2 separate regions of the Homo sapiens genome follow, and region 1 is linked to region 2. Evidence: fine-mapped expression QTL. A gene starts in region 2. The other region holds a variant in brackets. All regions are shown on one strand. Distances are between the middles of the regions.

Evidence for each region. PIP is the estimated chance that this variant, and not a neighbour inherited with it, causes the effect.
Region 1: its variant is fine-mapped to the expression of PLEK2 in cerebellar hemisphere (GTEx, PIP above 0.99). The same link has a PIP of 0.9 or more in anterior cingulate cortex and cerebellum.

What each region holds. Positions count from the first base shown.
Region 1 is chr14:67,469,116-67,479,984 of GRCh38, forward strand. It overlaps TMEM229B (transmembrane protein 229B), which reads right to left. Exons shown (of 3, transcript NM_001348543.2): 3 at 1,154-4,826. The coding sequence starts at 4,808. The coding sequence ends at 4,305. It also overlaps a transcript of GPHN not described here. Among named protein-coding and RNA genes, the nearest start is that of TMEM229B, 14 kb to the right of the region's middle. The variant G/C (reference allele first, on the strand shown) is at 4,834.
Region 2 is chr14:67,405,661-67,417,701 of GRCh38, forward strand. It overlaps PLEK2 (pleckstrin 2), which reads right to left and starts at 6,505. Exons shown (of 9, transcript NM_016445.3): 1 at 6,358-6,505. The coding sequence starts at 6,399. It also overlaps a transcript of GPHN not described here.

The DNA of each region.
Region 1 (10,869 bases), 63 kb after region 2:
TTTCATAAGGGAAAAAGCTTTCAGCCAAAGAAATGAAAACCTTCAAGTGAGGGAGGCAGAGGGCCCTCCCGATGATTTAGAAAGCACACTGTCTACTCCATCCAGAAAAGCAGTGGGTGTTCTATAACCCAGCTGTGACAGGGGGCCCATGCCATTTGCGTTTAGCTGAAATTACTGAGCAACTTCAAGACAGGGTCTCACTGTCACCCAGAATACAGTGGTGCAATCATAGCTCACTGCAACCTCCAAATCCTGGGCTCACGTGATCCTCCTGATTCAGGCTCCTGAGTATCTGGAATTATAAGTGTGTGCCACCATGCCTGGCTTTTTTTTTTTTTTTTTTTTTTTTTGTAGAGATGGTGGTCTCTGTATGTTGCCCAGGCTGGTCTCAAACTCCTGGGCTCAAGTAATCCTCCTGCTTCAGCCTCTCAAAGTGCTGGGTTTACAGGTGTGAGCCACCATGCCCAGCCTGACTGAGCAACTTCTGAACCCTCCATCCTCTTCCTGGAAGGAGGAAAGTGGGCAGCGGCCTGGTGGTGGTGGTGGTGGTGGTGGTGGGAGGACAGGGAAGCTCAATGGAGCAGAGGTACATAAAGGGGGAGAGATTACTCCCTCCAAATGCACTTCTCCAACAAAACAGGGCTGCCAGGGAGGAGTGCAGAGCTGTTTTTTCGAAGCATGACTTTCAGTGTAACATCACTTTCAAAGTAAAGGGCTCTGGCCTTCCATGTCTTTGGGGGTACCCTCAGCCACCCTGCTTGGTCCCTCCTGCCTCATGAGATGTCTCAGGTCATGGCTGGTGTTTCCAGGAGGAGCTCGTCTCATGGGCAACTGCAGCCAACCTGCAGTCAACCTGGATACTGCCTGAGATCCCCCTCTGCCTGGGAGCGTGGCACCAAAGTAAGGCCTGGATCACATTATGCCACCTGAGAATTGGGGTCAGGGTGTGAATTCAGGTTACCAGAGAGTGTCAGAGTAGAGACAGCAAGAAGGATTGGCAGGGAGTGTCACTTGCCCCCTCCACAGGGCAGCCCCGCCCAGCAGCCCTCTTAGTTCAGGAGGGCATGATGCCAGGGTGCAAAGGGCCTGGCCTCCAGGAGCCCCTGAGAAAGTGGCTCCAAAAGAGGAAAAACAGATGGGCCAGAGCCAGTCCTGGAACACAAACACCAGTATATTTTATGTGCACAAATGTGAAAAGGAAGAGACAGAGGGACCAACGGAGACACAGAGCAGGCAATGGGCGCACAAACCGGTCGTGTGTCCTTCTCAAGAGCTGCCCAACTGGGAGACAGTCCCACCCACCTCAAAGGCCCTTTAGCAGAGCTGGGGCCTGCATCTCCTCCAGGTCTGGGTGGCCTCAGGGTGGAAGGCACTCTCCCTGCCATGGCTCCCCTAAGGGCTGGGCCTCTAACCTGTCTGCATCCCAGGGTGATGCCTACACAGCCCAGGGCTTCATAAATGCAGGTTCTCATGAACTGACCCACTCAGCAGCTGCCTCCCCAGGAGACCCACGCAGAGTGAGGGACCAGGACAAAAGGGCTTCATGGGGACTCCCTAGGTATTATTGCTGTGAATAAGCATAGGCCATTGTGACTCACTGGCATTGAAGAGGGGACAGGGCACATGGGATGCCTAGCAGATGTCCGAAGCAGTTCAACCATGCAGGGCAACACATTGCAATCTGTAACTCAGAGATGCTGCCATGTCTAGTGGAGAGAGGCCCAGGACACCAGAGGTTCATGAACAGCCAGCAAACACTCCCCACCAGCACCCTTAATGCTTGGCAGGGCTGGGATTATTCCAAACTTTGAGTCCCTGGCCACTAAGGGATTGGGGCCCTGATACCCAAAAAAGCAAGAATTGAAGTCTGGGCTATCCCTGGTGAGATCTGAACCTGTAGATCCCGTGGTCAGGCCATGGGTTGTTGCCTTCCTTTGCTGGAGGTTTGATGCCTTATGAGGGGCAACTGGAGAAATGGGACACCTAGATGGAGCAGAAACACAATGCTGGATGTTGCCAGGCACACAGGCATACCCCCAGGACCTCCTGCACTTGGGAAAGTATAGGACCCAGAGAGGAAATGGTGCCAGGGAATGCCCACAAGGCAACTTCTGGAGCAGCAAGACCTGGTGGGCCAATCAAGGATTTGCTCTGGCTGAGAATTATGGAGGCATCAACAAGCTGGCCACTGGACTGAGTTGTGGAATGCAAGTGTGAAGGTGGGTAGTGTGGTCTAGGGGCCCACATGGAAGGCCTGAAGGGGTGCTGGGAGACTAAGACAACATGGAGTTGGAGAGAGAACCAAGGAAACAATTGCCCAGAGAGAACGGGGAAGCCAGACAATATTCTCCTCCTGGAATTTTCTCCACCTATAGATGGAAAACAATCTACTCCCACCGGAAGCCTGATTCTCTGTAACCCCCAAAGCCCTGGAATTGGGGCCACAATAAAATCAAAAGGAGGGCTGGCCACTGCAGAAAGTAGTTCATCCCTGGATTTGAGGAGCCTGCCCAGGAAATAGGCTAGGAAATACCCTTCGTTCTGCTCTGGACGGGGCTAACTGCAGAAAATCCTGCCAAAGGCAGAGTCTGCAAGCTTTTCTCCAGACCTAGGACACAACTGTGGCCCACCCCACCACACCCTGCACCCCACCACACCCTGCACAGTATGGGCAGGGCAGCCAGCAGGGAAGAGGACATTCTCTCCACAGGTGATACCGTCACTTTGTAATGATCCATAAAAAGGGGAAGGCTAATTTCTACCTAAGAGTCCTAGTGTGGTCAAGAAGAGACCATGTACCATGGGGTGGGCCACTTTCTAACGGACCCTTCCCCTTGAGGAGTGAGAGTCAGAGCCGGAAGTAGGCTGGAGTGAGTATTTCACCTGTCCACTGCCAGCAATGGACCTGTCACAGGACAAAGTGGGGCAGGGGAACCAAGGTGCCAATGCCCATGAGTGTGGCAGGGTTAATACTGTTTAAGGAGTGAGCTCAAAGGGTCAGCCTTGCTGGGAGGAGTTTGGGGAGAGGGGCAGCCCTGAGGTTCTGCTACCAGGGCTGAGGCTCTGGCAGAACCAGAACTGATACCCTCCCACAAAGGAGGCTCCAAGGAGCCTTCCACAGCTGCAAGGTCCTCCTCTCTTTCTTCCTCTCATTCTCCATCAGTCTCCAATGCTGGATACCTGGCTTCTCCATCCCATAGAAAGCTAGACTGCTCAGTTTTGGCTTGAAAATAAACCAGGCAGGGAATAGATGACCTAGAACTCTGGCTTTTCCCCACCAAACTGACTTGCCTCTAGGTCCCCACTGTGGATCCACAGGGCCTAACCCAGCCTGCCTGTGCATTGGAGGGCATCATTTGTTCTCAGCTGAGCCACTGAGAAGGGAGCACTGCCACAGCCCACTAGACCGGGGGTAGGGAGGTGTAACTCAGGAACTCCCCAGGCATCAGGCCAGCCGGAACAGTGGAGGGAAGGGCTGCAAGGGGGTGAGGGTTGGGGGTGTCTCAGGGCTTCATCTCCGGCAGCTCCTGTGCTGGCTAGGGAGCTGGGGTGGGGCAGGTGTGGCGACCGACGTGGATAAAGAGCCGCTAGTGGTAAAGGCTTTGAAAACAAGACAGAAAAGGGGGAAACGCCACCGAACACACGGGGATTGAAACCTCCAAAAGCCCAAGGTTGGTGGGAATCCAGCACCACGGGGGCCCCAGAAGGCCAAGGGAGCAGCGCAGGGCCCTGGGGGAGGGGAGAGGAGCCAAGGGAGGGTCTCCCAGCCCTTGCAGACCAGCGTTGCTGCCACGCAGCCTCCTGGCTGCCCAGTCTCTCCTCGGCTGCAGCTCAGCAGGCCCCTGGGGAGGTATTGGTTGCAAGCAAGCACCTGAATATTGCCTAATGGAACCAGCCAAAGCTCAACTAAATCCAGATCGGAGGGAGGGAGGTCAGGCCTTGCCTCCCACCTGCGGCCCCATTCTCATTGTCCCTTGGCCAGGACAGGGCCTGCTGCTTCCAAAGTCAACTACATAGTCCATCGCTGCTCAGCCACAGGCCTCCTGGTACCAACCCCTGAACTGGGCCGCGATCCATGGACCCTTCCCAATGTCCCTCTGCTGCCTCCACACCCCATCCCCCAACACCTGACCACGGCCCCCCAACACCGGCCCCCGCGGACGTTAGGGGGCTCTGTGTGCCCTATAGGGCTGAGGCTTGGCCGGAGCAGGGCTTTTGCTGCATGGATGGGGCAACCTCACCAGCTTGGTCTCTTTGTCCATGAGTTCCATGAGAGATCCCCAGGCCCCCCACCCGCTTCCTGCTCAGTCAGTCTTGACATGGCCGTTGGCCAGGGCTAGGGCGCCGCTGGGCTCCCCGGGCTCAGCGTCCTTGTCGAAGCGGAGGCGGAGGGTGTTGCGGATGATGAACTGCTCCATGATGAGGGCCCCGCAGAACCAGGGCACGGCGTACTCCAGGGTGATGAGGCCCATGAAGTCAAAGTCGAACTGGGAGTAGTCCCAGGGGCAGGCGTTGAACTGGCGCAGGATGAAGCCGGTGGTGAACTCCCACAGGTAGGTCCAGAGCGTGTAGATGAGGCAGCGCAGGAGCAGCGGGCAGCGGCCGCGCAGCCGCAGGTACATGCGCTCCACGATGAGGATGGAGGTGCCGTAGATGAAGAGGGCCCACACGCTCGTGACCCCAGGGAACTTCCAGTTCAAGTTCACCACGAACTCCCAGGCCGCTGTGAACATCACCTCGCAGAAGTAGCCGTGGATGGCATACAGGTACCAGCGGGACAGCGCCGTCAGGGGCTCGGCAGACGCCATGGCGCCGACTGGGGCTGGCTGCGGG[G/C]GGCGCAAGAGAGACAGGTGAGGGCCGGGCGCGGTGGCTCACGCCTATAATCCCTGCGCTTTGGGAGGCCGAGGCGGCGGATCACTTGAGGTCAGGAGTTCCAAACCAGCCTGGCCATCATGGTGAAACCCCGTCTCTACTAAAAATACAAAAATTAGCCTGGCGTGGTGGCCCGCTCCTGTAATCCCAGCTACTTGGGAAGCTGAGGCAGAAGAATCGCTTGAACCCGCAAGGCAGAGGTTGGAGTGAGCCAAGATTGCGCCACTGCACTCCAGCCTGGGAGACAGAGTGAGACTCTGTCTCCAAAAAAACAAAACAAAAAAAAAACAGAGCAAAGAACAGAATAACCCACCCACCCCACTGACTTCTCTGCAACTCTACCCAAATGCTACTTAGAGGGAGGTGTCTGTACTCCCTAGAGCTTTTTTGGATTATCTGTGGTCAGTTGAAGAGTCGGCTGGCCTGCTGCACCAATCAGCCCCATTTCTAGACTACTTGCTGATTTCTCAGCAGGCCTATCCACTGGGGACCCCATTTCTTCCTCCACTTCTTCTCAAACAGTTCCATGTCACTCATATTTCTGAGATGTAAGTGACTCATCACATTTGTCCTTGTGTGTGTGCATGCCATTTTTTAACCATGTGTAAGTGTACAATTCAGTGGTCTTAAGTACATTCACATTGTTGTGCAACTGTCACCACCAACCATCTCCAGAACTTTTTCATTGTCCCAAACAGAAACTTTGTATCCATTAAATACAAACTCCCATTCCCCATACCCTCAGCCCCTGGCAACCACTATTCTATTTTCTGTCTCTATGAATTTGACTACTCTGGGTGCCTCATATAAGTGGAATCATACAAACACTGTCCTTTTGTGACTGGCTTAGCATAACTGGCTTAGCTTTCACTTAGCCTAATGTCTTTAAGGTTCATCCATGTTGCAGCACATGTCAGAATTTCCTTCTTTTTTTTTTTTTTTTTTTGTGACGGAGTCTCGCTCTGTCGTCCAGGCTGGAGTGCAGTGGCGCAATCTTGGCTCACTGCAACCTCCGCCTCCTGGGTTCAAGCGATTCTCCTGTCTCAGACTCCTGAGTAGCTGGGACTACAGGCACACACCATCATGCCCGGCTAATTTTTGAATTTTAGTAGAGACGAGGTTTCACCATGTTGCCCAAGCTGGTCACAAGCCCCTGAGCTCAGGTGATCCGCCCGCCTTGGCCTCCCAAAGTGCTAGGATTACAGGCGTGAGCCACTGTGCCCAGCCAGAATTTCCTTCCTTTTAAAGGCGGAATCATATTCCATTGTATATATCACCATATTTTGTTTATCCATTCATCCATTGATGGACACCTGGGTTGCTTCTACCTTTTGGCTACTCAAAATAAGGCTGCTATGAACACGGGTGTACAAAGGTCTGTCTGAGTCCCTGCTCTCAACTCTTTCAAGTACATATGCAGAAGTGGAAATACTGGATCATATGGTAATTCTATGGTTAACTTTCTGAGGAACCACTGTGCTGTTTTCCACAGTGGCCACACCATTTTACATTCCCCATCAGCAATGTACAAGGGTTCCAATTTCTCCACATCCACCCCAAACACTTGTTATTTTCTGTTTTGTTTTTATAATGGCCATCCTAATGGGTGTGAGGTGGTTCTCTCATTGTGGTCACATTTGTCTTTGCTCCATTAAATGGGGTTTTGGTGTTTGGTTTCAGTGCTGAGGGGAAACCAATGGATTGACACAGGAAAGAGTCCTCCCCAGTCCTTCTGGCTCCTTTCCCCTCCCCTCTTTTAAACCCCACCAGTCTTCAACGCCCGGCTCCCATGCTGCTTCTCTCTACTTTCTCCTCACCCTCCACCAGCGACTGTCTGCACCACTTACCTGGCCCATTATCAGGTGCCACCCCAATGGCTTTTTGAGGTATGTGCTCTCATGATCCAACTAGCATGTGAACTCCTTGAGGATAGTGACTGTTGCACAGGCCAGTGCTTTGTGGCCTTGACGCAGGCCCGTCCTGGGCAGGCCCTCTCTAAATGACATGTCCTGTTCATGTGGAGGGAGGTGTGGGACTGCATCAAGAATGGGAAGGTAGGGCTTGAGAACATAAATCCCAGCTCTGCCAGCTGCTAATGGCTTCACATCTCTGTCGATCCCCTCTCCAAGGTGGGAGAAAAGACAGAGGTTAAGGAAATGGCATCTGTAGTATGCACACCTGTCTGGGAATTCCAGCCTCACATTTCAGCTGAAGCAGGCCTGGTCACATTAATACCTACCCAGCCTTGTGCATTGCTCTGTGGTCTTCCAAGCACTTCGTTCGCATTTTGTCATGGTTCTTACATAATTAAAATTCAGGCTGGGCGCAGTGGCTCACACCTGTAATCCCAGAACTGTGAGAGGCTGAGGCGGGTGGATCACCTGAGGTCAGGAGTTTGAGAACAACCTGGCCGACATGGTGAAACCCTGTCTCTACTAAAAATACAAAAATTAGCTGGGTGTGGTGGCATGCACCTGTAGTCTCAGCTACTTGGGAGGCTGAGGCAGAAAAATTGCTTGAACCCAGGAGGCGGAGGTTGCAGTGAGCCAAGATCATGCCACTGCACTCCAGCCTGGGCAACAGAGCAAGACTTCCTCTCCAAAAAATATATTTATAAATAAAATAAAAAAGATTCATGTGAAGGTCAGAAAATTTTACTCCCATTTTTTTGCAGTGAGACAGAGCTCAGAGAGGGGACATTATTTACCCCATATCCCAGGGCCAGTAAATGGAAGAGCTGAGATTAGAACCAATATCTCTTGCTTTCTACTGCAGAACTCATCCCCTGCACATGACTGCCCATCTCTTAGACATACGTACCAAATGTCTCTCCCCTGCTCAAAAATGCTCGATAGTGGCTGGGCACAGTGGCTCACGCCTGTAATCCCAGCACTTTGGGAGGCGGAGATGGGCAGATCACCTGAGGTCAGGAGTTCAAGACCAGCCTGACCAAAATGATGAAACCCTGTCTCTACTAAAAATACAAAAAAACAATGGATGGGTAGGTATTAATGTGACCAGGCCTGCTTCAGCTGAAATGTGGTGGCATGCGCCTATAATCCCAGCTACTTAGGAGGCTGAGACAGGAGAACCGCTTGAACCTGGGAGGTGGAGGTTGCAGTGAGTCGCGATCGCACCATTGCACTCCAGCCTGGACAACAAGAGCGAAACTCCATCTCAAAAAAAAAAAAAAAATGTTCGATATCTCCTTATTTCCTAATGAAACACAACAGCATCCTTGGCCTGCCATTCAAGATTCTTCATGACCTTGCCCCGATTGACATCTTCAGCCTTTTCCTCACAATCCAGCTCTTCCTGTCTTTCATCTCCATGCCTTTGCAGGTCCTATTCATTCTGTTAGGCGTGCCTTTCTCCTCTCACTTCCATGAGTATAAACCAGCTTGCAGGTTACCTTCAGAACAAAATCTCTTTCATTCCCCCAGGTCCCAAGGCTTCTCTTCCTCTTCTGAATTTCTACAGCACTTACTCTGTCTCACTCCCTTTGCTACAGGTTATTTTCAATATTATATTGAGAATTTCTGTCCCCGGCCAGACCTCTTTCCTGTGTGCTACACCTATAGCTCCTGCCCTTCCCTAGACAGCTCCCCCTAATGTCCCACAGGCATCCCAAACTCCTTTCCTAAATCAAACCCATGGGCAGGTGTGGTGGCTTATGCCTGTAATCCTAGCACTTTGGGAGGCAGAGGCAGAAGGATCGCTCGAGCCCAGAACTCTTGAATTCAAGACTAGCCTAGACAATGCAGTGAGACTCTGTCTCTAAAAAATAAATAAATAAAATCAAACCCATTATCTTTTCCCCAAAACCTGTTTCTCTCCTAAGACCCCCACCCCAATTAATGGCACCACCATGCACCCAGTTAGAACCAGCGGTCTCAAAGTCTGTCTGGCTTCCTCTGCCACATCCCCACCCTAACATGAGTTCCTGAGAGTGAGGGCCTTGCCTGCCTGGTTCAGCATAGTATTCCCAGTGCCTGGCACAAAGCCCAGCACATAGTAAGCATTCAAGAGAAGAATAAAGACATTTCTTAGTTAGCAATCGCCATATAACAAATCATCTCAAAAACCCTGGCCTAAAACAACTACCGTCTACTATTACAGCTCACATGTCTGTGGTTGGCAGACGGCTGGGGCAGCGTAGCTCCACTCCACCTGTCTCTCATCCTCCTCCGGGGCCCAGTGGACTTGCCTGGGCATATTCTTCTCATGGCAAGGGCAGAGGCACAAAGCTGAGCAAGGCTAGCTGTACAAGTGTGGTTCAAGACCCTGGCTAAGCCATGCCCACCATCATCCCACTGGCCAAGGGAAAGCCACCAAGTCAGCTACTAACTCCCACCCTTACCACCTCTTAAATATCTTTGGGATCCATCCCCTCCTCTTCATTACTCTTCTCATTGCTGCCACTGCTCTGGTTCACGCCCTCATCATGTCTCACCTGGATGACTCCAAAGGTCTCCCAGCTTTGCCTTCTTCCTTCTAATTCACTCATCACAGGATGAAAGAGTGTGTAGAAAAAACGCAACCTTTCTAAAATGCAAATCCGATGTTTCTCACCACTTGAAGCCCATGAGTGGATCTTCAACATCTACAGAGTAAATAAAGCTCAAACCCCTGGGGACGGCTGGCAAAGCCCTTCACAACTCGTCCCTGCCTCCAATCCTGTCCTCCAGATCTCTACCTTGCTGTTTTTGCTACCTGGGCCCCACCCAGGGCCGGTGAACCCTCCTTTAAGACCCAGCTCCTCCTCTGTGAGGACTTTCCTAAGCACCCTGACTCCAGAGTTGTCTTCCCACTTCTGCACCCTCCCTTCTCTGTGGTAATAGTGAGCACTCTGCTTCACTGGATTCATCTGAACGCCAGCACCAGCAGCCTCCTGAGGAATGCTTGTTTAAGATAGTGGTAAGAGAAAAAAGCAGGATTCAAAACTGAATATTCAACCTAACTCCGATTCTGCAAAGGCATGCATATGTGCACATATACAAAAAAATTAAACAACAATCATCTCTGGATGGTGATATCATATGTGCTTTTTTTCTTTATATTTTTCTGCATACTTTTTTTTCCTAACAAGCATGTATAACTTTTATAAAACTAAAATTTCATCTTAAAAATGCTTATGGAGGCTGGACGTGGTGGCTCACCCTGTAAACCCAGCACTTTGGGAGGCTGAGGTGGGTGGATCATGAGGTCAGGAGTTCAAGACCAGCCTGGCCAACATGGTGAAACCCTGTCTCTACTAAAAGTACAAAAATTAGCTGGGCGTGGTGGCGTGTGCCTGTAATCCCAGCTACTCGGGAGGCTGAGGCAGAAGAATTGCTTGAACCGGGACCCAGGAGGTGGAGGTAGCAGTGAGCGAGATCGTACCACTGCACTCCAGCCTGGGCTACAGAGCAAGACTCTGTCTCAAAAAAAAAAAAAAATGCTTGTGGAAGCTGGGTGCAGTAGCTCATGCCTGTAATCCCAGTACTTTGGGAGGCCGAGGTGGGTAGATCACCTGAGGTCAGGAGTTCGAGACCAGCCTGGCCAACATGGTGAAACCACATCCCTACTAAAAATACAAAAATTAGCCGGGCATGGTGGCATGCACCTGTAATCCCAGCTACTCGGGAGGCTGAGGCAGGAGAATCGCTTGAACCTGGGAGGCGGAGGTTGCCGTGAGCCGAGATAGCGCCACTGCACTCTAGCCTAGGTGACAGAGTGAGACTCCGTCTCAAAAAAGGAAAAAAAAATGCTTGTGGAATGAATATGTATTCACCGTATTCATACCTCGTGTATAGAAGGTGTTCAATGAATTTGCTAAGCAAATGAACCCAAAGAAACCTGAAGTCATGTAAAATTATTGCAGGCTCTTCCCTCCTGTGTCATCCAACAACAAACCATGCCTCACAGGTCTCAATATGGCCAGCTGGTTAAGTTCAGGGACCCCAGATGATCCTAACTGCCTGGGTTGGAATCCTGGCTGATGCTTTCCACCTGTGA
Region 2 (12,041 bases):
AGGCTTCTTATTGGCATTCTCTCTCTTTCTCCCTCTGCCTCTCTCCCTCTCTCTCTTTCTGATTATTTGCTGTGGGAAAAGCTAGCTGCCATATCCTAAGCAGCCCAATTGAGAGGTGAGGAGCTGAGGCCTCCAGCCAACAGCCATGTAGGTGAGCTCAGAATTGGACCCTACAGCCAGTCAAGCCTTCAGGTGACTGTCACTCTTGGCTGCAGCCTCACGAGAGACCCTGAGCCAGTCTTGCAGCTACGCTGTTACTGGATATCTGACCCTCAGAAACAGTGAGATGACAAATCTTGTTGTTTTAAGATGCTTGGCCAGGCACGGTGGCTCACACCTGTAATCCCAGCACTTTGGTAGGCTGAGGGCAGGTAGATCACTTAAAGTCAAGAGTTTGAGACCAGCCTGGCCAAAAAGGTTAAACCCCGTCTCTACTAAAAATTCAAAAATTAGCTGGGCGTGGTGGTGGGTGCCTGTAGTCCCAGCTACTCAGGAGGCTGAGACACAAGAATCACTTGAACCCAGGAGGAGGAGGTTGCAGTGAGCCAAGATGGCGCCACTGCACTCCAGCCTCGGTGAAAGAGCAAGATTCCATCTCAAAAAAAAAAAAAAAATGCTAACTTTTGGGATAATTTGTTATACAACAATCAATAATTAATATAGGGCATGATACAAACCCCAAGGAGGAGCTCAGGAGAGGCTGAGGTGGGGTTAGGTACATTCCCAGGAGTGATACTGGGGCTCAGTCTTCCTGGTTGTGTGGAGTTAGGCAGGTCAGGAAGTCAAGGAGGGGTGAGCATAGGACCCCTGCCACTTTGGGGAGACTCCCCGTGGTTCTATATGGCTTGGGCTCCATAGGGGAGGTGATGGGGACCAAGGTGGCAAGGGCTTCAGGTTCTGTGCCACAAAGTTTGATCTTCAAGGGGAGTCCTTGGAGGATTTTAAGCAGAAAGACAGCAAGCTTACGTTCTCATGTTAAACCTATCACTCCGAACACAGCAGCAGAACAGAATAGCCAAAGGAAGCAGGTGAGACTGGAGTGGGGAGCTCAGCTGGAGGCTGCTGGAATAGTCCATGAACCTGGCAGGAAAGCACCACCGGTTCTGCTCTACAGATAAACCACACCATGCACAGAGGGCATAGTGACTGGTCTAAAATCACCAGGCAAAGTGAGTCACAGGCCGATAACACAATGGTATGCTGAAGAAGAACCCAGGCCTCCCTCCACCTGGACACTTGTCCCTGGGCAGAGAGTAGCTTCTCTTTTAGGTTTCTTGTCTGTAATCCGCTGGCTGGAACCAGAGGCCAGCTGAAGCAGGGGGTGCTTGGAGTTCCCTGGATCCCTTTTGGAGAGAAGGACGAGGGGCCCATAAGCTGGAATGGCACCTCAGGGATGGGCTTATGAGACACAGAATGTTACAGCTGGAGAGACCCCAGGAAAAAGCCTCCTTTATTCCTTATTACTATTACTTTTTTTTTGAGACGGAGTCTTGCACTGTCGCCCGGGCTAGAGTGCTGTGGTGCGATCTCAGCTCACTGCAACCTCCACCTCTTGGATTCAAGCAATTCTCTTGCCTCAGCCTCCCGAGTAGCTGGGATTAGAGGCACCCATCACCACACCTGGCTAATTTTTTGTATTTTTAGTAGAGATGGGGTTTCACTATGTTGTCTAGGCTGGTCTCGAACTCCTGACCTCGTGATCTGCCCACCTCGGCCTCCTAAAATGCTGGGATTACAGGCATGAGCCACCACGCCCAGCCCCTAACCTTATTTTTTTTTAATTAAAAAAAATGTTTTTGAGGCAGGGTCTCATTTGGTTGCCGAGGCTGGAGTGCAGTGGCATGATCATAGCTCACTGCAGCCTCAAACCCCTGGGCTCAAGCGATTCTCCCATCTCAGCCTCCCAAGCAGCTGGGACTACAAGCGAGTACCACCATGACTGGCTAATTATTTTATTTTTTGTAGAGATGAGTTCTCATTTTGTTGCCTAGGCTGCTCTCGAACTCCTGGCCTCAAGCAATCCTCCCACTTTGGCCTCCCACATTGTTGGAATTTACAGGTGTGAGCCACCACACCCGGCAGACCCCTAACTTTAAAGATAAGGAAACAGAGGCACAGAAAGGTCTTGCCCAAGGCTCTATAACCCTGAGAAAAGCAGAGATGCCAGCTGGGCCCAGTGGTGTGTACTTGTAGTCCCAGCTACTTGGGAGGCTGAGCCAGGAAGTTCGCTTGAGCTCAAGAGCTCAACATTGCAATGCACTATGATCACACCTGTGAACAGTCCCTGTGCTCCAGCCTGGGTAACATACTGAGACATTGTCTCTTGAAAATAAAATAAAATAGAGGGCCGGGCATGGTGGCTTACACCTGTAATCCCAGCACTTTGGGAGGCCAGGTGGGTGGATCACCTGAGGTTGGGAGTTCAAGACCAGCCTGACCAACACGGAGAAACCACGTCTCTACTAAAAATACAAAATTAACCGGGCGTGGTGGTGCATGCCTGTAATCTCAGCTACTCAGGAGGCTGAGGCATGAGAATCACTTGAACCTGGGAGGCAGAGGTTGCAGTGAGCCGAGATTGCACCATTGCACTCCAGCCTGGGCAACAAGAGCAAAATTCGGTCTCAAAATAAATAAATAAAATAAAATAAAATAAAATAAAATAAAATAAAATAAAATAAAATAAAATAAAATAAAAAAAGAAAAAACAAAGATGGGATGATACTTGCTATGGGTTGAATTGTATTTCCCCAAAAAAGATACACTGAAGTCCTAACCTCTGGACCTGTAAGTGTGATGTTATTTGAAAATAGGGTCTTTGCAGATGTAATCAAGTTAAAATGAAGTCACCCTAGACTAGAATGGGCACTAATCCAATTGACTGGTGTCCTTATAGGAAGAGGAAAATTTGGACACTAAGAGACACATAGGGAGAGGATGGTCACGTGACAACAGAGACAGTGGTTGCACTGAAGTATTTAGAAGCCAGGGAATGCCAAGGGTTGCCTGCAAACACCAGAAGCTAGGAAGGATCCTCCTCTACAAGTTTCAGAGGCAGCACGGCCCTGGCAACACCTTGATTTTGCACCTCTAGCCTCCAGAACTCCTTCTGCTCTTTTTCTTCTACGCATATTTTTTCTTTACTCATACATTTTATCACTTTACTCTTCGGATTTTAATACTATAAACATATTCAACATCTGCATAACCATAATTTAATTAGTCATTTGGTGGGGACAGACAGGTGGTTTTCAGTTTTTTCGCCACATAAATGATCCTTTATTGGCCAGGCGCCTATAATCCCAGCACTTAGAGAGGCCAAGGTGGGAGGATCGCTTGAGCCCAGGAGTTCAAGACCAGCCTGGGCAACATGGTGAGACATTGTCGCTATAAAAAAAAAAAAAGAAATAAAAAAAAAGCAAAAAACAAAACATTAGCTGGGTGTGGTAACATGTACCTGTAGTCCCAGCTACTAGGGAGGCTGAGGCAGGAGGATTGCTTGAGCCTGGGAGGTCAAGGCTGCAGTGAGCCTTGCTGATGCCACTGTACTCCAGCCTGGGCAACAGAGTGAGACCCTCTCTAAACAAAATAAATAAGTAACAGGGGGGTGTGGTGACTCACACCTCTAATCTCAGCACTCTGGGAGGCCAAGGCCAGGGGATCACTTGAGCCAGGAGTTTGAGACCAGCCTGGGCAACAGAGTGAGACCTCATCTCTACAAAAATACAAAATAAAATAAAAATAACTCTTTGTTATAAAGCTTTTACAGAGCTTTACAAAAAAGGATAGAGCCCTGCACATAAAATCTCTAGGCCAGAGCATGTTCACATTGCAATGTTATTCACAATATGAGCCCAGCAGGAACGCCCGGCAGTGCTTCTGTCTCTTCTCCCAGGAAAAGCACTCCTGCTCACGGCTCATCCCCCACTTCCCTCTCCCCACTCCCCTGACAGCCAGGCCCAGTGAGCTCCTTGCATTTTGCCTGGAACTCTGCTTCTTTCTCGTCTGGGTGGGATTAAGAGCCAACTCTATCATGTCCCTGCCTGTCTCTGGCTTCGCTTTCACCGGTGATGACTGCTCTGCACTCCGGCTTCCAACGCAGGCCCTGCCCCACCTCTGAGCTCTTAACTCTCCTAAGACTATGGAATCCCCCTGCCACAGCCTGCAACTTCTCCAGTGGACATAGGGAATGCTATTGCCATCTAAGAGTAGAGGGGATATGGAGGGTTGAAAAAGTTGGGATTACTCAGCAGACTGGGACCACAACAGGGTTCTGGGGCCCTATCCTTCAGCCTGCAGGGAGGGGTGTGACTTCTGCTTGCCTCAGGGTCAGGCTCCATCCCAGTCTTTGGGTCTGGCTGGAATGAGCTCTAGGTATTTCAGCCAAGCCCCGTCTTTTCCAAGGGCTTACGGGGACCAGATCTGTTGACTCTCCTCATTTTCTGCACCCTGGATTCCCTAACCAGGCCACCCAGAAGAGAAGTCCCATCCTCCTGGTGATATCCTGGGAGCTCTGTGGCTCTGCCCTTAGCCCTCCTCTGACTCTCAGCATGGTGGGGGTGATAGGGAATGATGGAAGGTAACCCCCAGGAACAGGAGAAGGCCTCCAAAACTCCCAAAGCTCTATCAGAAGGATCTGTCTCCATGTTAACTTCATCCCTCCACAGGCTCTACCAGGGCCCAGCTATATCAACAGTGCCAACAAAAAGCCCCGTGCCCAGCTCTCACTCTCCCTCCCACCTCCCAAGCCGCAGTTAAATGTGAGATTAGGAGCTCCCCATGTGTAGTCTGAGGTGCAGCCACCTCCACATGCTGCGAGAAACCGGCCTATCAGTTCAGCCACAGTGGCAAGTGGGCGTGGCGCTTTGTACTGCTCTATCCAGTCTGACCCTTGATCTGGCATCAGCTTCTACCCTCCTTGCTTACTGTTTACAGCAAACAGCCACCGCTCTCCTGTACCAAATAACGTGCAACATCATGTGGACACATTTTGTGGGGAAAATGAAAGTGATGTGAGACTTTAGGGCTGATCCAGCCACCCCGGGAGGCAATGAAAGGAAGGGCCCCTCATCCCTCTTCATTCCCCTCCCAAAGCTGAAAACTCAGTAGAAGAACCAGAAAGCTCAGCCCTGGATTTATATGTCTCTTTGCTATGCCATCATAGCAGTATAAATGGTTAGTGTTAATGTCATTGTTCAAATTACGCTCTGTGTGGTGGCTCACGCCTGTTATCCCAGCACCTTGGGAGGCTAAGGTGGGCAGATGACTTAAACCCGGGAGTTCAAGACCTGCCTGGGAAACATGGCGAAACCCTGTCTCCACAAAAAAATACAAAAATTAGCTGGGCATAGTAGTGGATACCTGTAGTCCCAGCTACTAGGGAAGCTGAGGTGAGAGGACCACCTGAGCCTGGGAAGTCGAGGCTGTGGTGAGCCAGGATTGTGCCACTGCACTCCAGCCTGGGTGACCCTGTCTCAAAAAAAAAAAAAAAAAAAAAAGGTCAAATCAGGAAAAAATTTTGAAATAACAAACTTCCTTTTGCAGCTGCTCTTTTGTTCATCTTCTACCATAATCCCAGGCACTGAGTTTTTGTTTGCACTCGTTTGCCCTGGGCCACCTGGGGTGGTGGGGAAGGACTGAGGAGGGGAGGTCAGAACATGCAGTTCCTGTCCCAGCTATTACTGGCTCTGGAGCTCTGGGCAAGCTACTTCATCTTTCTGGTCCTCAGTTTCCCCGTCTGTAATAGAGTGATGTCAGTACCCACCGTGTATGGCACTGGGGAGGCAGTAAAGGTTTGGGTCAACCTGAGTGGGTCTGATCCCGATCCTGGCTCCACCACCCACTGCCTTCACCGCCCCGAGCAAGTTCCCTAACTCCTCTGGGCTTCGTTTTCCCCCTTGATGAAAGCAGGGCTGCTGGGAGGATGACATGAGACAATATCCAGGGCTGGCCAACAGTAAGTGCTTAAGACACATAGTAGCATTCCTCCTTCACAGGTTGTAAATTACAGAGCACGCCTATATTATCTTAGTAAATATTATTTAAATATCATACCATTCATAATATTTTAACAAGTTTTAATTAAGACACACGCTTCAGTACCCCTGCCCCGACTCCATACTGCGCTAACCAAGTGGGATTCTCCTCCTTGCCTGTGCGCTGAGCCACCGCTTACCCCGCGTCCCCTCGGACATGCAGCTCTGCCCATCAGGGCCACAGGCGGCCCGGTCCCACCATGGGGGTTGGGGATGGGAACCAGAGCATGCCCGTTCCGGGGCGCGCGTCTGGCCCCGCTCTAGGGAGCCGCGTCGGCGGGGCCCCACCCGGGCAATGTCCCGAAGCTCGACGCGCACTCACCCTCTTGACCAGGAAGCCCTCCTTGAGCACGCCGTCCTCCATGTCGCCGCCCGCACGCCAGGGCCACCCCAGGTGCGCCTTCCCCGCGCCTCGCGCTCCTCGGCACCCGCGCAGCCCGCGCAGTCCGCGCCCACGGCGCCCAGGAAGCAGCTCCGACGCGGCAGGGCGACGCCTCCCTGGCGCGTGTCCAGAGCCTGAGGCCCCGGGGCAGGAAGTCAGACCAAGTCGGGATTTCTGACGTGACGTTTCCACCCAAAGGTGCTCCAGGGTCGGTGGTTGGTCCTCCAGGTACAGAGCGGCCAACCCCGCCCCATCCAGGTGCGCCCCGCGCCCCTCACTGTTCCAGTCTCTCTGCTCAGCGTCCTTCGCCAGGTGCTTCCCGGGCACTTAGCGCATTGCCCTCGAGGAACGCTTATCGAATTGAACATAACCGACAGGACTCCAGGATTTGGAGCCATTCCTGAGCTCATTGCAAGTAGGAGATGGGACAGTGGGTGAGCCGAAACTGGTATGGGAATTTTATCCTGGCCTCTGATGGGGGCAGAGAAGACCTCTCAGTAACAGGAAGGTCACAGTTTTAAGGCGGCAGGCACAGTTTGCAGGGCCCCCTGTCCGCAGGATATACCCCGCTCCCTCAAAAAAGATGAAGCCGAAAATTCCATCATTAAGGACAAAATTTAAGGGGGCACCAAGGAGTCCAGTAACCTAGACAAATTATATATAGAGAGAGATGATTGGTTTTTTGGGGTTTTTTGTTTGTTTTTTGAGACAGGGTCTTTCTCTGTCACCCAGGCTGGAGTGCAGTGGTGTGATCATAGCTCACTGCAGCCTTAAACTCTGGGCTTAAGATCCTCCTGCCTCAGCTCCCCAAGTAGCTAGGACTACAGGAGTGCACCACCATGCCTGGCTGGTTTATTTTTATTTTTCGTAGAGATAGGGTGTTGCTATGTTGCCCAGGCTGGTCTTGATTCCTGGCCTCAAGCAATCCTCCGGCCTGGGCTTCCCAAAGTGCTGGGATTACAGGCAAGAGCCACCGTGTAAGACCTAGAAAAATAATATTTTAATGCATTTTTTAAAATCAAAATTAATGTCAAAAAATCCACGATGAACAAAATGCTAACATTTTAAATAGATAGGATCAACAACAATGTTCTATCAGGCCATATTGGAGCCTGGAACAGAAGGAAACTCAGTCAAATAGTACTGATTCTGTCTAACAATCCTTAGAACACAGTCACACATTTTTTTAAAATTTATTTTTATTTATAGAGACAGGGTCTCACTATATTGTCCAGACTGGTCTCGAACTCCTGGGCTCAAGCAGTCCTCCTGCCTCAGCCTCCCAAAGTGCTGGGATTGTGGGCATGAGTCATGGGGCCGGTCCATATTATTTGTGCTCCAGTTTGAAGGGCCCTGTCAGGACTCTTCACCAGGCATGGGAAAGGCCCTCAGATGCCTGTAAGGGAAGAGAAGGCTCTAGAGAGGAAGAAGGTGAACCAGCTTGTGGAAGGCGGGGGGTGCCTTTCAGAACCAGACTGAAGCCAGCTCCCAGGCCAGTCCCTGCCCTGGAGCTCTTGACACAGTGTTGCTTCTACATGTCTGTAGTAGACATATTACATCCCCCCAACCCCACTCCCACCTGCCAGCCCCAAGGAAAACTCGCAGGGTCTGGGTCACTGCGTGCCAGCCCAATGGCCCACTCTAGCCTTCTGCACTAACTGGCCTTCAGACTTCCCAGGAAGCCCCAAAGCAGTGGGGCTTCCATTCCAATTCAGAATGAACATCAGCTGGTCACCTTCTGAAGCCAGGCCTGTAGTAGTAGGTGCTAGGTTTTATCTAAAGTACAACAACCCCATGAGGTGTTTATTATGTCATTTTCCAGTCAAGGAAACTGAATCCAAGTAGTTAAATAACTTGCCCAAGGTTATGCAGCTCCAGGGCATTGCAAATACTCTTGCCTCCTAAGGAATTGTCCCAGCTCTGAAACCTAGCTGGGCTGAAAGCCAGGACTTGAGAGGTTGAGCTGGGAAGTTCTCATCCTCTTCGGCTCTAACTGTGGTCTATCCATCTCCTTCCTCAAAGAGGCTGTCTTGGCCCCACCCAGACACAATCTTCTGAGGCTTAGAAGAAGTGGCATTTTCTTTGGCAGGAGGGGTTCTTGAATGAATTCACAGAAATGGGAATGGGAAAGAGATGGATACCTTCTCCTGGCAGGGCTCCTGCCAGGAAGAAGTTAAGGCACACCTAGAACCTGCTTCCTGTCCTAGGAAACCCCTGGTCCAGCCCACCCTGCCTGACTCACTGGATCTGGGGCATGAGTCATACCCCTTCCTTCCCCAGGCTGTGGTGGCTGAGCCACCAGCCCACCAGGGAACCATGATGACATAAGCCCAACTCACCCATAGGGAAGAGGATGGAGACAGAAGGAAGCAGACAGCAGTAAACAGCTGGGGGAGGGGGCAGGGACGAGCAAGAAGCTTTCAGAGAGACACCCCTCCTCTCCCTCTCAGGCCTGGAGGCTGATGTGGAAGGGTCCCTGGCCCTCTCAGCTCCTCCCCTTTTTGTCCCGAAGGGACAGGGACAGATAATGCCTAGGGTGCTGAGTTGCAGAAAACTATTAGGTCTGTGTTTAAGTATAGGTGACTCACAGCCTGATGTGAGAATCTATCATTAGAGATTCATTCCTTTAGCTTCAGATAAGAATCCCCTGTTTAAGATACATAGAGTGGAAAAGGATAAATCATGGAAACTTATTCACAATAAATGCCTGGACTTCTTGAGTTTACCGGAATCACAGAATCAGAATCTAATCCCTAAAGATCACCAAATCCGGATGCTTCATTTTATAAATGAGGACCCTCAAAGCCCAGGGAAATAAAATGACTTGTCCAAGGTCTTGCAGCCAGTTAGTGGTAAAACCAGGGCCAGAATACAGGCTAACAGAGCTCAAGGCTGGCTCCTGGCAAATACAGGGCAATGCCCCCAGCAGCGACCTGCATCAGAGCATCCTGCAGTGAGAGGGGGGCTGCAGGCCTGGAAGGGCTCTGTCTGCAGAACTGGAAAAGACTTCAAAAAATCCTTCTACATTTTTTTCTGAACATAAAAATACATTTGTGCATATTATAGAATATTTAGAAAATACCAAAAGGGATAAAACCACCCTGAATCTATCACTCAGACAGATGATCAGTATGTTTATATGCACATACTTTTAAATTAAATTTTATTTAAAATTTTTGAACCCTGCCTTTTTTTTTAACTTATAATAGCTAATAAGTATCTTACCAGGTCATTAAAAGTAATTCAAAAACATAATTTAAATAACTGCATAAAATTTCATGGTGACTGAATTTAATCATTCCCATGTAGGTTGAATTTCCTTTTTCACTGTGTAAATAGTATTATGATAAATATCTCTGTACATACACATTTTGCCAGATCTCTGATTATTTCAGATAAACATCTAAGGTATAATTTTAGGTTAAAGGGTGTAAATTTTTAAAATTCTTGAAGCATATCACAAAACTGCTTTCTAGAAATGTATCACATGCTATCCTCACCAGCAGCGTATGACAATGCCAGTCTCACTGCGTCTACGCCAGCATTCAGTATAGTATTTTCAGGAATATACATCATTCTATTATAAAGATACATGCATGTGTATGTTCATTGCAGCACTATTCACAATAGCAAAGACATGGAATCAACCCAAATGCCCATCAATGTTAGACTGGATAAAGAAAATGTGGTACGTATACACCATGGAATACTATGCAGCCAAAAACAGGAATAAGATCATGTCCGTTGCAGGGACTTGGATGAAGCTGGAAGCCATTATCCTCAGCAAACTAACACAGGAACAGAAAACCAAACATCGCATGGTCTCACTTGTATGTGGGAGCTGGACATTGAGATCACATGGACACAGGGAGGGGAATAACACACACTGGGGCCTGTCAGGGGATGTGGCGGGAGGGAGAGCATCAGGAAAAATAGCTAGTGCATGTTGGGCTTAATACCTAGGTGATGGGTTGATAGGTGCAGCAAACCACCATGGCACACATTTACCTGTGTAACAAACCTGCACATCCCGCACATGTACCTTGAAACTTAAGATAATTAAACAAGAAGCTTTGCTGATTTTAAAAATGTATTTGCTTATTTATTTTTTATCAGCCCACATCATGCTTTGAGTAGAAAGCTTTGCTGATTTTCTCAGAACCAGCAGGGACAACCCCCACTTGCGTAAGCTGTGTGTTATCTCAGTCAAGGCTGAGCCCTGCTACCTGGGGGACGGCCAGCTAGAGGGACGTCCCCTGGAAGAGACTCAGAACTGAGAAGTTGCTGGAAAACTGCTAGAGAACTGGGCGGTGAAGTCCCAGAGTAGCGCATCATTTGTAGGAAAAGGAGGGCGTGTGGGGTCCCGGGCAGCCAGGAGAGCACCCTGAAGGCACTGAAAAGATTGGGCAGAGGCAAAAAGCCAGAGGAGACAGGAGCTAGAAGTACAGGCAGGAAAAGACTAAAGAGAAATTTTGCCTAATTCGTGGCTATGCCCAAGGCCATCCAGCTAGTTGCTCTGCTACAACAGAAATGTATATTCATTCATCTGTCAATTCATTCATTCATTCACTGAAGCAGGGAGACAGATACTGAGAATGTCCGTGTACAAAGCACGGACAGTGCCATGGGTGACACACAGACCTGCCCTGGGGCCTCATATGTCAGTGTAAACAAGGTATCTTTTCCATTAACAGCAGCATTGTTGATTAACAGCATCTTTTGTACTAATTCCGGGGACACTGCAGTTCACAGGGCAGATGCTCCACCATAAAGGTGAGGCTTCTCACACTATCTGTGGTGAAGACTGGACTTCTGAGCTGTGAACATTGAGTGGTCCTACTGTGCATGACCAGAAAACAGCCTCTGCCACAAGTGACTTATTGGAGACTTCTACGTCACCCAAACTGGTCTATATTCTGTTCAGTGAATCAAGACCACGGACTGTGTGCTTGAATGTTGTGGTAATGCCCAGCTGCTATAAAAGTTTCCAAGCACTGACTCTCAGTTCCCATTCTTTCATCATAGAGCAGTACCAGATCACTCTTGAACAGCACTGCTCTTGAGTATGGGTTCTGGAATCTATAGCATGGGTTCAAACCCTTCCTATGCCACCCATGTTACTGATGGCAAGTTACTTATCCTCTCTGATCCTCAAGTTCCTCATCTCTAATATGGGCTAATAGCATACAAAGAGTTGTTTGGGGAAAATAAATGAGATTATGACAATAAATTATGTAGTGCGGTGCCTGGGACACAGTAAACACACAATAGGTTTTTTCATTTCCACTCGATCCCACGTTGTGAGGTTGGTAGAAGGAGTGAGCATTGGTAATCAACACCTCCAGAGTTATGGATATAATATTTTTATTTTTGAGACAGGTTCTTACTCTGTTGCCCAGGCTGGAGTGCAATGGTGCCATCATAGCTCACTGCAGCCTCCACCTCCCAGGTATAAGCAATCCCCCTACCTCAGCCTCCTGAGTAGCTGAGACTATATGCATGCACCAACACACTTGGTTAATTAAAAAAAATTTTTTTTTGTAGAGATGGCCTATGTTGCTCAGGCTGGTCTTGAACTCATGGGCTCAAGTGAGCCTCCTGCCTTGGCCTCCCAAAGTGTTGGG